Homo sapiens: one gene and its partner. The protein of the gene in region 1 interacts with the protein of each later gene in a pairwise test. Each region holds a gene or a part of one and is shown on either strand. Other genes may lie near its edges.

The links.
Region 2: the proteins of DBH (region 1) and KLHL20 interact in binary tests that used the Homo sapiens proteins (3 or more experiments, as listed by UniProt).

Annotation. Positions count from the first base shown.
Region 1 is NC_000009.12:133,653,348-133,659,842, reverse strand, and holds the end of DBH (dopamine beta-hydroxylase precursor), read right to left. Parts: intron 5,257-6,495; exon of another isoform or gene 3,321-5,256; coding exon 3,193-3,320; intron 2,774-3,192; coding exon 2,614-2,773; exon of another isoform or gene 2,435-2,613; intron 1,528-2,434; coding exon 1,396-1,527; 3' UTR 514-1,395; downstream 1-513. UniProt on the Homo sapiens protein: Catalyzes the hydroxylation of dopamine to noradrenaline (also known as norepinephrine), and is thus vital for regulation of these neurotransmitters.
Region 2 is NC_000001.11:173,752,963-173,759,990, forward strand, and holds part of KLHL20 (kelch-like protein 20), read left to right. Parts: intron 1-250; coding exon 251-345; intron 346-2,960; coding exon 2,961-3,076; intron 3,077-4,013; coding exon 4,014-4,197; intron 4,198-7,028. UniProt on the Homo sapiens protein: Substrate-specific adapter of a BCR (BTB-CUL3-RBX1) E3 ubiquitin-protein ligase complex involved in interferon response and anterograde Golgi to endosome transport.

The DNA.
Region 1 (6,495 bases):
CCGTGTCTACTGTCACCTAGGCTGTAAAGATGACAGAGGGCCGGAGTGGCTCTCCAGGCTGGGGCCTGGCATTTCACAGCGCTAGCGCCGTGACTTATGGACCACAAGAAGCTGTGATTTATACAACGTGAGGCAGAGCTCCTGGGCTCGTGACTTCCCTTCTGTGATGAAGTGAAGTGCCTTGCAGAAGCAGCAGCCGCTTAGCTGATGCGAGGGGACTCCGAGGCCCATCCATCTCCCTCTCTCCCCATGAGGCTGGGCAGCGTTTTGCTGAAGTGGCTGAACACAAGTGCATCTGTTACTGTCTCCAGAAACCATCAAAGAGCTGAACTTGTCCCTGAGAGGCAGCTCAGAGGGCAGGAAGGGGAGACCCACCCAGGCCAGCTGAGGCAGCTTCAGGACGCTCAGGGGGAAGCACTTGGTACCACGCCTGGCACAGGGAGGAGGCTCAGGAGCAAGCTTCTCTCTCCTGGAGCGACGGCCCGGAGTGCAAACATACCCACCTCCAGTGGGTGCCAGCCCAAGTGTGAGCTTTATTGGCTCATTAGCCCGCACGGCATCAGCCTGGTTTTACAGATGAGAAAAGTGAGGGTCAGGAATGTGAAATGGCCCGCCCAAGGCACACTCCCTAAGTGGCAGAACCACGCGGAAAGCACAGCCCTGACTCCACCCCGGTCTGTTCAGCGCTGGCCCCACCGGCAGAGAAGCAAGCTGGTGCTAATAATTCCACCCCACGTGGAACCGGCGCCCAGAAGCCCCGCTGGATCTTTGCCGCCTCGTCTTTTGGTGATAGTTGTTGTCAGGGCTTCCCTTTAGGTGGGCGAAAATATCTGTTTACTCAGGAATGGAGCAATTTCCCAGGCGAGTCTCTAACTAGCTAAATGCCTGGTCCTGCCTCCGTCGCAGGGAAGCCGCCCACTGTGAAACACGAGCCACTCAGCAGGGAAATGTTTAAGCGGCACCCGCACCCGCTGCACACCGGGAGCAGCGGGGCGGGGGCGGGGGCGTTCCCGGTGATTCCACACCCCGGCCCAGCATGGTGCCTGTCCCAGAAGCCAGGCCACACCCAGTGAGGCGGAACAGGGCTGGCGGAGGGCTGGACCCTGGACCACTGTGCAGGCTGTCCCTGCACTGAGTCAGCCGGGTTTAAATGGACGAGGTCGTGGTCCACTCGGTCCAGGGTAGGTCAACAGGGCACCCACACCCTCTCAGCCATGCAGGGGACCCTGGGGGAAGAAGGCTGGATTGGACCGTGGTCTCAGGCAGGGGCGTGGTCTGGCCCCTTCATCCTGGGCGTGCAGGGCTGTTCCATGGGGATCGTCGCAGAGTAGAGTGCACAGTGCCGGTGTGAGCCCACAGGGACAGCATGGAGGAGGGGGAGGAGTAGGTCCCCCCTCAGCCTTTGCCCCCACCAATGCTGACAACGGTGGGGCCAGCAGGGCTTCGGCCCTGGCTGGTGGGGCACTGTGGGGTGGGCTCTTCCAGTGTGGAGATGACCTTGGGCAGGGGCTGCAGGTTCCATTCACCCTGCAAGGAAGGGGGCAGGAGGTAAACTGAGGCTGGAGGGGCAAGATGGGTGGCTGCTTCCCCAGCCACTTCCCAGCCACCTCTTGGATTCTTGCCCTCAAACTCAGCTTGTCTCAAACTGAACTCACTCTGCTCCCCCAAGTTGCTTTTTGGGGGTCCTCACCTCAGTAAATGCCCCCTCCCCTGGCTTCCCATTCACCTAGTCAGGAACCTGGGAGTCATCCAGGCCTCTCCCCGCCTCTGTCCCCACCCAATTTAATCATTCACCCTAGTGTAGCAACCAGAGCCCCTGGCTGCAGGCTCTGATATTTTTTAGCTATCTCTTCCCCTCAAGGCTACACCAAATGCCAAGTTTTCAACCCCATCAGACGTCCACCCCACACTATTCTCAGCAAGCCAGTATTAGCCCTTCCTTCCCTTGGTGCTGAGGATGTTTGACTTAGCAGTTAATCTGGCTCCCAAATGCTTCTGGGAAGGATCTTCCTGGATCTCCAGGCTGCGGCACCTTACGCGACTAACTCTGCATAGGCCCTGGCCTCCTGACCACAGCCCAGTGGGCCCAGGATAAATTAGATGCCTTCGAATACCAGTGGGTCTCAGATAAGGAGGAAAAAACCAGCTCGCAGCTTCAGACTGGTTCGTTTCTTACCTTCCCCTCCCCTGGTGCTTTATTTTTAGGCAGGTTAGTGCGCCCTGCTCACACCACCTGCATTTGGCATTCGGTACAGTGTGGAGGTGTCACCAGAGAGGGTGCCTGCCCTCCCTTCCTTGCCTCGTTATTGGTTCTCTCTCTCTCCCTCTCTCTCTCTCTCTCTCTCCTCTCTCTCTCCTCTCTCCCTCTCCCTCTCTCCCTCTCCCTCTCTCCTCTCTCTCCTCTCTCTCCTCTCTCTCCTCTCTCTCCTCTCTCCTCTCTCTCTGCTGGCTGGCTGGCTGTCTAGGCCTATGTGTCACCACCTGGCACTTGCTCTCATTGTCTTGTGCGAGTGCTTTTGCCAGCAGTTTGGAGTGCAGACCCATCACCCCTCACTGGGGCCCCCCATGAGGCCTGCCTGACTGCATGCCCCACCCGGGCCCATGGCAGCGCACCTGGAAGCGGACGGCTGAGGACTTGTTGCAGTGCATGGAGATGGGCGCGAAGCTGTACAGGGCCTTCAGTACGTCGCGGTTGAAGGAGTTCCAGGGAACAGAGGTGAACTGCTGAGACACGGACGCCTGAGGGCAGGTGCAGACATCCTCGTTGTTGAACCTGGTGGGGACAAGGAACAGCCAGGCTGGGGAGCAGCTGACGGGCAGGGAGCCCAGTGGGCACCAGCAACACCTCCCTGCAACTCGAGTCCTGTCCCTGGGGCAACCGTCCTGCCACCTCCTCCCCAGCCCCGCTGCCTCCGCCAGGCCACCCCAGATGCTGCCTTCACCGGCAACGGCCTCACCTCTCCTGTCACCTTGGCGGGTGGGTAATGGCTGCTGCAGGCTGGGTTGAGGAGGCTCTGAAGCCAAATCCAGACTCAGCAGGAAACGAGTGAGGGGAGGGGTGAGTGATGCCGCCACAGGTCTCTGCTCCTAGAACTTAGCCTGGACTCCTCCAATCTGCCCAGCCGCCTAACAGGCCCGAGGTTCTGTGTCGGGGTTCCCTGGGGGCAGGGAGCTTGTGCAGGGAGCCCTCACCTGTTGATGAGGTGGAAGTACTTCTGCAGGAAGCCGGCGTCCACAGCGCTCTTGCAGAGCTCCAGCTGCGTCTGGGGGTAGTAGTGCACGTAGTTGACACACATCTCCTCCAGGATCCCGAAGCCCCCCTGCAAGTTGGAGGAGACCCGTCAGCCCCGGGCCATGCCACGCAGACGCTGCCATCCAGCAGCTTTCGCCGCACCCACGTGTACACTGCGTCCACTCGTCTGTTCACTGCACCGTGCCAGGCATGCTCTGGGGAACCGAGTCCCTGCCCTCAAGGAATTGCCACCATTGGCAGGAGAGACAGGCAGTGAGTGAGTGAGTCAACCAGGAAATTCGTATCAGGTACTGATGATGCTGTGAGGAAAAATGAAACGGGACAAGCGGATGGGGTGTTATTGTGCCCATTTTATGGGTACAGAAACTGAGTCTCAGAGCAGGCAAGGGGATGCCCCGTGGTGGCCACAGCATCGGTGGCACAGCCTGAGTGCACCCAGCGTCCCGGCCATTGTCTGGAAGCTGTCCCCATGACCTCCAGCGAGAGCCTGGAGCCAAGGACTGCAAGGGAGGCCCTTTCCACTGCAGCCCCGCACCGTCCACCAGTCATTTCTCCAACGTGGCTCTGAGGGGAGCAGGGACTCTATAAGACAGGACCGTGACTAGAGGCCGCGACAACCTCCAGCCTCTCACGGCAACCCTACGGCCTGCCATCGCATGGGAGGGGCAGGGCAGGCACCCTCTGAGTCCCCACTGCCAGCTTTAAGCCCCTCGCTGGGTTGCTGCTCTTGGAGCTGGTGACCGTGGAGCCTCAGCCATAGGAGGAAGAACAGCAGCAGCTTGGAGGAGCTGGGGCTGGAGAGAGCAAAGCTCCCCCGGCAGCAGCTCAGATCCCAGCAGGTCAGGGGCCGGGACATGACGCCCTGGCCACCCTTGCCCCTCCAGGCTCCCCGCTGTTTGTGAAGCTGCTGTGGGCCTGGGGATTTCATCTGGCTGGTGGGGAAGAAAGGCAATCTTTACTCTATGGCAGAACAAAGGGACTGGGCAAAGCTTGGCGTGGCACTTACACCAGCTGCCGCCCCCTCCTCCCGTGCAGACAAAGAGCATGGGACAGTTCTGCCCAGAGACGAAACCTGGCACCTGTTGGCCAGGACGCGTTTTTGCCAGCATTGTTCTCTGGGCCGGATTCCTCCTTTCCCAGCTTTTCTCATCCATCCCGCCCCCGTCAGATCGGGACGATTGCCCTCCTGTGTGAGTTCCTGTCCCTCCCCACCCTCTGCCACCACAGACATCAAAAGGGAACTGAGTCCGACCCTGTGTAGAATCTGTTCTCCTCTTTCACCTGGGGAAGGAAATCGAATTTCAAAGGCCACTGTGTCTTGGATCAGCAGGCGAGGGCTTGTCAGAGTGTGAGAAGCTCAGGTCCACCTGGGGAGCTGCCCTCCCCTTTGATCCCACCTGGTGCTGTGATGTGGCCACTGCCAAGAGGACGACATGGGCCAGGGAAGCCACAGAACTGCCCACGGGGACGCTGGCACCGAGGGCCTCAACCTGCAGAACGGCCATCTGAGATGTCCGCGGTGCTCACCAGGCCTGGCAGCCCCGAACGCCCTGGGACGTGGCGTCAGTTCCGCCGCCGTGAAGCCAGATTGGGCAGGGAATATGCAGTCTCCTCGCTGGATGCCCGGCAAGACCCTCCCATCCCTGGCCCCGGGGCCGCGCCTGCAGAATGGGGCTGATGGTGGGGACTTGCCTGGGGTGCTCCACCTGCAGAGCCCTCTGTTTGCGAGCCCACTCAGTCACTGCACAGGTGCTTAGCCGAGAGGCGGCACAGTCGGGGTTGGCACCTGCACCCATACCAGCCCTGCCTCCTGTTCGCTGTGTGGCCTGAGTGGCTGGACCTCACTGTATCTCCTGGTGGGATTGCTCAGAGGTCTCAGCAAGGCTTGGTGTGGTTAGGATGAGTTATTAGAGCAGTGCTGAGCTGTGGCAAGCACCCGACATCAGCCACTGCTGTGATATACTGAGCACCTCCTCTAGAGAGAATAAAGGACTGACAAAGCTGTCCTGTCTCCACCCTGAGTTTGTGATCAGGAACCTAGGACACTTGTCACCTGAAATCCAAGGGAGACAGGAAGGGTGGGGTAACAGCTGTGAGGCACAAGACCCTGGGTCAAATCCCAGCTCAGCCATCTATCAGCTGTGTGACTTTGGTCAAGTGCCTGCCCTCTCTGAGCCTTTATGTCTCACCTGTGAAAATACAAACACTGGCTGGGTGCTATGGCTCATGCCTGTAATCCCAGCATGAGGGATTACATGAGGAGTTTGAGACCAGCCTGGCCAACATGGTGAAAATCCATCTCTACTAAAAATACAAAAATTAGCCAGGCGTGGTGGTGGGTGCCTGTAGTCCCAGCTATTCAGGAGGCTGAGGCAGGAGAATCGGTTGAACTCGGGAGGTGGAGGTTGCAGCAAGCTGAGAACACACAGCCTGGGTGACAGAGCGAGACTCCGTCTCAAAAAAAAATAAAATATAAAATAAAATAAAATAAACCACTGGCAGTCTGGGCTCAGTAAACATCAGGTGAATCCACATTGGATTAAAACACAAAGAATAGGGCTGTGACATGGACCTGAGTTCCTGGCGCTGAGGGATGTCAGGGTAGCTGTAACCCAGGTCTGCTCCACTTGAGCCACACAATTCACAGGATAATTATTGGAGACCACCATGGTTACCGAAGCAGCTGGCACGGATCCACTGGCAAGGTGGCCCATTTGCCAGGACAGCCCTGGCTTGTGCCTGGGACCCAGGTAATTGTGAACAGCATCCCCTTTGGCTCCCGGAAGCAGCCCCGCTGCGTGATGCATCACGTGGCTGCCCGTGTCCTGGTGCTGCCTGCATACCCAGCCTTGAAAATAGATCTCTCCAGTGCAGATTCTCCTTGAACTGTCTGCAGTCCAGCCAAAATGCATCCTCAGCTGACGCTCATCCTGCCTGACCCCCACCCATGTCTCCACCCTCTCCTCCTCTCCTTTCCATCCTGAGAATGTTCTTGGTCCTCTGGGCCTTCCCGCACGCAGCCCCTGCACAGAGCCTTCCTTCACCTCCTCCCCTCTCCCCTGGGCTCCATGTGACAGCCACATTTCTGACAAGGCCCTCCCAGGTCCCCGCACCTCTGCCTCCTCAACCTGGTTTTTAAAGTTTTGTTTTGTAATTTTGCTTGTTGTTAGCAGCAGGTGCTCCAGGCCTGTCTCCCTGGTGCACCTTGAGCTCCACGGGGCAAAGGTCAACCTCTTGTCCTA
Region 2 (7,028 bases), on another chromosome or scaffold:
TTTGAGACCAGCCTGGGCAGCGTGGTGATTCCCCGTTTCTACAAAAAAAAAAATACAAAAATTTGTTGGGCATGGTGGCATGCACTTGTAGTTGCAGCTACTCTGGAGGCTGAGGTAGGCACATCACTTGAGCCCAGGAGATTGAGGCTGCAGTGACCTACGATCATGCCACTGTACTCCAGCCTAGGCAACAGAGTAAGACCTATCTCAAAATTAATTAATTAAAATAATGGTGTTTATTTTCTCATAGGTGCTGCAGCATGTTCGTTTGCCTTTGCTTAGTCCCAAGTTCCTGGTCGGCACAGTAGGCTCTGATCCCCTCATCAAAAGTGATGAAGAATGCAGGTATGAGTGACCCTGGATGGGAAAAATCAACAACTAAGCATTCCTATTTTTTCCTAATTTCCTTATTTGTATTGCTTCCTAAATATTGTATTTTGCAGAGCTGAAACCAGGGCTTTAATTTAACAAGGTTTTCTTCTGGGCTAGAGTCAAGAGGAGGAAAAGAAGAAGAGAGAACTGAACTTCCAGTGTTTCATTCCATTAGGTTTTTATGTGTGGTGCTTACTGGTGTAGAAGTGGCAATAAAAAGGTAGATTTCCAAGATTTTAATGCAGGCTTGAATTTAAAGAGTCAATTCTCTGCTAATATTTTTTTTTTCCTTGAGATAATTAAATAATGCTGTTGACTCTGTCAATGAACATTTTTTCCTTCCATCACATATGTCTGGTTGGGGAATAGAATCAGCCTTGCTTTCTAAATTGTGGACAGAGTTGAAGATCTGCCACTTTCTAAAACAGCTGTAGAAAGATTTTCACTAAAACTAGGTGAAGCAGTTTCCAGAGGTTTTTTGACGAAAGAAACTCTTAACTACTTTTTCAAAGGGGGGGAAAAAAGCAACCTATTTTACTAGGCTGTCTTTAAAGTATATACAAAATGTAATAAATTACATTCCCAATTTGACAGATTGTAAGATTTAGGTTCAAATCTGAAATCATCTGGGATTGTTAACCATTTTTCCCCAGCATGTCCCAAATATAAAAGTGAAAGAGAAAATCCATACTCAGAACTTTGTAAACTACACTGACCTTTGAACCTCCCTTGGTGATTAAAGACATTTAGAATGATCCCTGATTCTAGAATGGTGGTAGGACATGTAGATTCACTTGCATTTCTTCTATAAACTAAAGCCTGTTCTTTTAACAGGAGAGGCTGGAGGGGATTTTAGATGTTTCTATTTTATTTTATTGTATCTTTTTTATATTAATCATTCTTCATTTTTCAGTTTACCATAGACTAGAGTTAAACTAGATTTTTGTATTCTATATTTAAAACACAGACAGGCCGGGCGCAGTGGCTCACGCCTGTAATCCCAGCACTTTGGGAGGCCGAGGTGGGTGTATCACCTGAGGTCAGGAGTTCGAGACCAGCCTCAACATGGAGAAACTGCATCTGTACTAAAAATACAAAAATTAGCTGGACATGGTGGTGCATGCCTGTAATCCCAGCTATTCAGGAGGCTGAGGCAGGAGAATTGCTTGAACCTGGGAGGTGGAGGTTGCGGTGAGCCAAGATCACACCATTGCTCTCCAGCCTGGGCAACAAAAGTGAAACTCAGTCTCAAAAAAAAAAAAAAAAAACACACAGACAAATGGCAATTAATTCTCCTAAATATTTGCAGTAGCAAAAAGGAAAACCATGTACATTATACATGCTGAAATCTGAAGAAATAATACATAGATGCCCTCCTCCATTAAAAGTAAATCAGATTGTATTGTACTGATTCTGATGCAGAAAGTAAAAGTACTTATGAAGTCATATTTAAAAGAAGACCCTTCCTGATATCCTAACTTCTTTTTGCTGCAGTTTCTTCCTCTATAAAGTGAGGATGATAATAGTGCCTATTCCATAAGGCTGTTGTGAAGATTAAATGAGTTTATATCTATTAAGCACTTAAAACCAGGACTAGCACATAGCTGTAAGTGTTGTTACTACCATTAATTTTGTGTTGGTTTGCTCAATATTATAGCTCTATAGTATTATTTGTAGGAACCCTCAAATGACCTAACAAGCTATTAGGAGATCAAAGTCTTTGTCTTTTTTTTTTTTTTTTTTGAGACGGAGTCTCGCTCTGTTGCCAGGCTGGAGTGCAGTGGTGCAATCTCGACTCACTGCAACCTCTGCCTCCCAAGTTCAACCGATTCTCCTGCTTCAGCCTCCTGAGTAGCTGGGACTACAGGCGCGTACCACCACACCCAGCTACTTTTTGTATTTTTAGTAGAGACGGGGTTTCACCATATTGGCCAGGATGGTCTCAATCTCTTGACCTCATGATCCACCGCCCCTCAGCCTCCCAAAGTGCTGGGATTACAGGCGTGAGCCACTGCAAAGTCATTACATGTGTAATTACTAGACTCTTCTCTTAAAGTGTCTTAACAAGACAGGAAATATGTCTCGGTAGACTTGTTGAGAGTAAACCATTCATATGTTACCAGATAGCAAATTTGTGGCAGTACAGTGTTTCTTTTCAGCAATCCGATTTTTGACCCAGTTTTATTACTTTAATCTAGCAAATAACTATTGCCCTGGCTGATGTGCTACCTTGCTAATATCTTGCAGAATCTAATAAAATTTATTAAAAAGTAGTAACTCTGCAGTGTGGTAATCAAATTGTAATTTTTACTTTTCTATAAGTTATTGTTGGCTGTAAGCATGTTGAGCTTTAGGCTAAATTTGCAGTGAGACATGAGTCATGATGGAAATACCAATCAATTCACAACTCAGTTTGACTGGCATTATTGGTTTCATGTTTGTGCCAATTTTAATATTGGCTGGCATTCATGATTTGGTTTGATTTATGCTTGCTTCCCTTTGCCAACCTATATATTCCTAAACTACATTGGGACTTAACTAACAATGTAATTTAGATATTTGGAATAAAGGCAGAATTTTTTCTACAGAGACTTGGTAGATGAGGCTAAAAACTACCTCCTATTGCCGCAAGAACGACCACTAATGCAAGGACCAAGGACGAGACCACGGAAACCTATCCGATGTGGGGAAGTACTCTTTGCAGGTTTGGATCTTAATATACTGTTAGTAAATTGAGTATTTTCCCAGGTGAGAAACTGTCATTTGAAAAATCCTTTGGACAATTATGATATTTACTGTCATAAGACACAAATAATAAGTCAGCATATAGCTTGACTCATAACCCATGATTCCACACTGATATACTCCAAAAGAGTGCTCTATTCTTTTTTCTCATTCAACACCTTTAATATCTATTTTTATATAAATCCAAAAATGTTGGCTGGTCACAGTGGCTCATGCCTATACAGCTTTCTGGAGGCCAGGCGTTTGAGACCAGCCTGGGCAATATAGGGAGGCCCCATCTTTACAAAAAATAAGAAAAACAATTGGCTGAGTGTGGTAGTGCATGTCTGTAGTCCCAGCTACTTGGGAGGCTGAGACAGGAGGATGGCTTGAGCCTAGGAGGTCAAGGCTGCAGTGAGCTGTGATTGCACCACTGTACTCCAGCCTGGGGAACAGAACAAGATCCTGTCTCAAAAAATAAAAAATAAAAATGTCGTGCAGTAGATGTTTTGTTGAAATGAGTCACATGCATTAATTTATATATCAATGTGCAGCTCATCCCATAATCACATGGAATTGTGAAAAAACATTAAACAATTATAATTTATTTCTCCATTCTATGCATATCCATCTATAATTTCTCCATTCTATCCATATATACATATTATCTCATAATCCTATGTGAATTGGTATCATTGCCTTCCTTTGTAAAATAGACGTAATACTAACTTATTTACAGAATTGATTAAAGATTATAGCAATCCCAGTGGAATGAGTTGAAGTCATAACTTGCATTTTGACCTACTACTAGAGACATTTGGTGAGTCTAAGCATTAGGTCACAGTGAAGTTAGTAGTGAGTGTTACATTTTATGCTTCAGGATAGGATTCTCTTGACCATTTCTGTTACTTCCCCAGTTGGTGGTTGGTGCAGTGGAGATGCCATTTCCAGTGTTGAACGATATGATCCACAGACCAATGAATGGAGAATGGTGGCTTCAATGAGCAAAAGGAGATGCGGAGTTGGGGTCAGTGTTCTTGATGATCTGTTATATGCAGTAGGAGGCCATGATGGATCCTCTTATCTCAATAGTGTTGAAAGGTGAGTAAGGTCAATCTGTAATTTTCTCTCTACTATTCATATAGTTTTATTTGAGATGTTAATTAGGAAACAAATTGATTTAATGCTTTAGTATTGCATCTGTGGCACTAGTTGGCAACCTAAACAAGTTAGTATGATACACAAATTCTTTATGATCTGGTCTCCGCCTATTTTTCTAGTCTGTCTCCCATGACACACTACCACTCCCTAAGCATGCTACTACAGACACATCAAATTGCCTGCAGTTCCTTGGACATGCTGCATGTCCATTCCAAGTCATACCTCTCTCCTTACATATATGCATGCTGTTCTTTTTTCCCTGGGATACTTCTGCCACTTTAAGACTTACATTTCCTTTGGCCAGGTGCAGTGGCTCATGCCTGTAATCCCAGCTACTCGGGAGGCTGAGGCAGGAGAATGGCCAGAACCTGGGAGGCAGAGCTTGCAGTGAGCCGAGATCACGCCACTGCACTCCAGCCTAGGCAAAAGAGCGAGACTCCTTCTCAAAAAAAAAAAAAAAAGAAAAAAAAGACTTACATTTTCTTCAAGACACAAATGTTACTTAATACATACAACTTTCTATGATACCATACAGATGAGTTAGTTACTAGTTACTTGTTCCTTTGCCCTTCCATAAGTATTTTGAACATGTTTGTACATATCCATCACATTGTACTATACGTGTTGAAATGTGTTTCACCATAATATCTATCGCAGTGACTGGGCACATTGGGAATCTCTAGTAACTGATGTTTCAATAGCTTCTTGCTCTCAAGAAGCTGTGTTGATTAACAGTGACTCTTTGTTTCCATAACACATCTATGAAACGCTGCCGCATATCAAGTTCTAAAGATATAGATTGTGCAGCTGGGGAAAAATCTTAAAAAGCAGAGGGATCAGTCCCATAGAAGTAAAACAACTGCAACATGGAGAAACCTCATCTCTACAAAAAATACAAAAATTTACTAGTTGTAGTGGTGCACGCCTGTGAGTCCCAGCTACTCAGGAGACTGAGGCAGGAGGCCCGCTTGAGCCTGGGAGGTAAAGGTTGCCATGAGATGAGATTGCGCCATTGCACTCTAGTCTGGGTGACAGAGCAAGACTCTCTCAAAAAAAAAAAGAAAAAGAAAACAACACACACACTTAAAAATAAATTGATGACATCACAGAAGGGAAAAAATAAATTGATGGCATCACAGAAGGGATCATGGCAGACGGGAGGCAGGACTAGACTGAAGCTCCAGACCGGGCAACATGCGGAGGCTTGATTGCAAATGTTAGCTCCAGACTGACTGCAAGAAAAAATCAGCAATCTCAAGAGGACCCACAGACCCTCTGAAGAAAGCGGACTGCTCCTGCAGCACCCGGGAGAAACCCCAAATATTGGGAGTGCCCCAACTGCAGAAATGGGAAAGGGAGACCCTCCTCTCCCAAACACACACCCCCACTGGAGAAGCTGAAGGTCTGTTTGCAGGAGAAGTTTCCAACTTTACCTGGAGCTGAGTCAAGTTAGAGAGGCAAGCGAAATAACAGGGGTAGAGGAAGCAGCAGAAAGGCCCTGGGAGTTTGCTGGGTCCCCAAGCAGGCCATTCCTGCCTGGCACCACAGGGATCCATTGGGAGGGTGGCCAGAGGAGCAGGGGATAAAACTCCCCAGGGAGAAGGAATTCTCTAGCTGAACTTTGTAACAATTTGAACAGGGTGAGAAGCCTCCTGACCAGAACTCAAGGTAGGGTGCAAATCCTGCATGCAGACTTCACCGGCAGGGGGAAAACTAAAGCCCTTTTCTCTTGCAGCTGGGAGGCGGATAGCCTGGGGCAAGCCTGCTGCCCGCCTGTGGCCTGGAAACAGACTCAGAGTTGTGAGAGGGGCACGGTGGGAGTGAGACCATGGGAGTGAGACCAGCCCTTCAGTTTGTGTGGGAGCTGAGTGAGGCCTGTGACTGCCGGCTTTCCCCCACTTTACTGACAACCTGCATGACTCAGCAGAGGCAGTCATAATCTTCCTAGGTACACAACTCAAGTGACCTAGGAATCTCTTCCCCCATCCCCAACAGCAGTCGCAACAAGACCCGCCCAAGGAGAGTCTGAGCTCAGACATGCCTAATCCTGCCCCCACCTGATGGTCCTTCCCTGTCCACCCTGGTAGTGGAAGACAAAGGGCATATAATCTTGGGAGTTCTAGGACCCCACCTACCACCAGTCTCTCTCCACACTACTACAGCTGATGTTTTCTGGAAAGCACCACCTCCTGGCAGGAGGCCAACCAACACAAAAATAGGGTATTAAACCACCAAAACTAAGGATCCTCACGGAGTCCATTGCACCCTCCACCAGAACAGGTGCTGGTATCCACAGCTGAGAGACCCATAGATGGTTCACATCACAGGACTCTGTGCAGACATCCCCTACTACCAGCCCAGAGCTGAGTAGACTTGCTGGGTGGCTAGACCCAGAAGAGAGACAGCAATCACTGCAATTTGGTTCACAGGAAGCCACATCCATAGGAAAAGAGAGAGAATACTACATCAAGGGAACACTTCGTGGAACAAAAGAATCTGAACGATAGCCTTCATCCCTAGACCTTCCCTCTGACAGAGCCTACCCCAATGAGAAGGAACCAGAAAACCAACCCTGGTAACATGATAAAACAAGGCTCTTCAACACCCCCAAAAAATCATACTAATTCACCAGCAATGGATCCAAACCAAGAAGATTCCCTGATTTACCTGAAAAAGAATTCAGGAGGTTAGTTATTAAGCTAATCAGGGAGGGACCAGAGAAAGGCAAAGCCCAAGGCAAGGAAATCCAAAAATGATACAAGAAGTGAAGG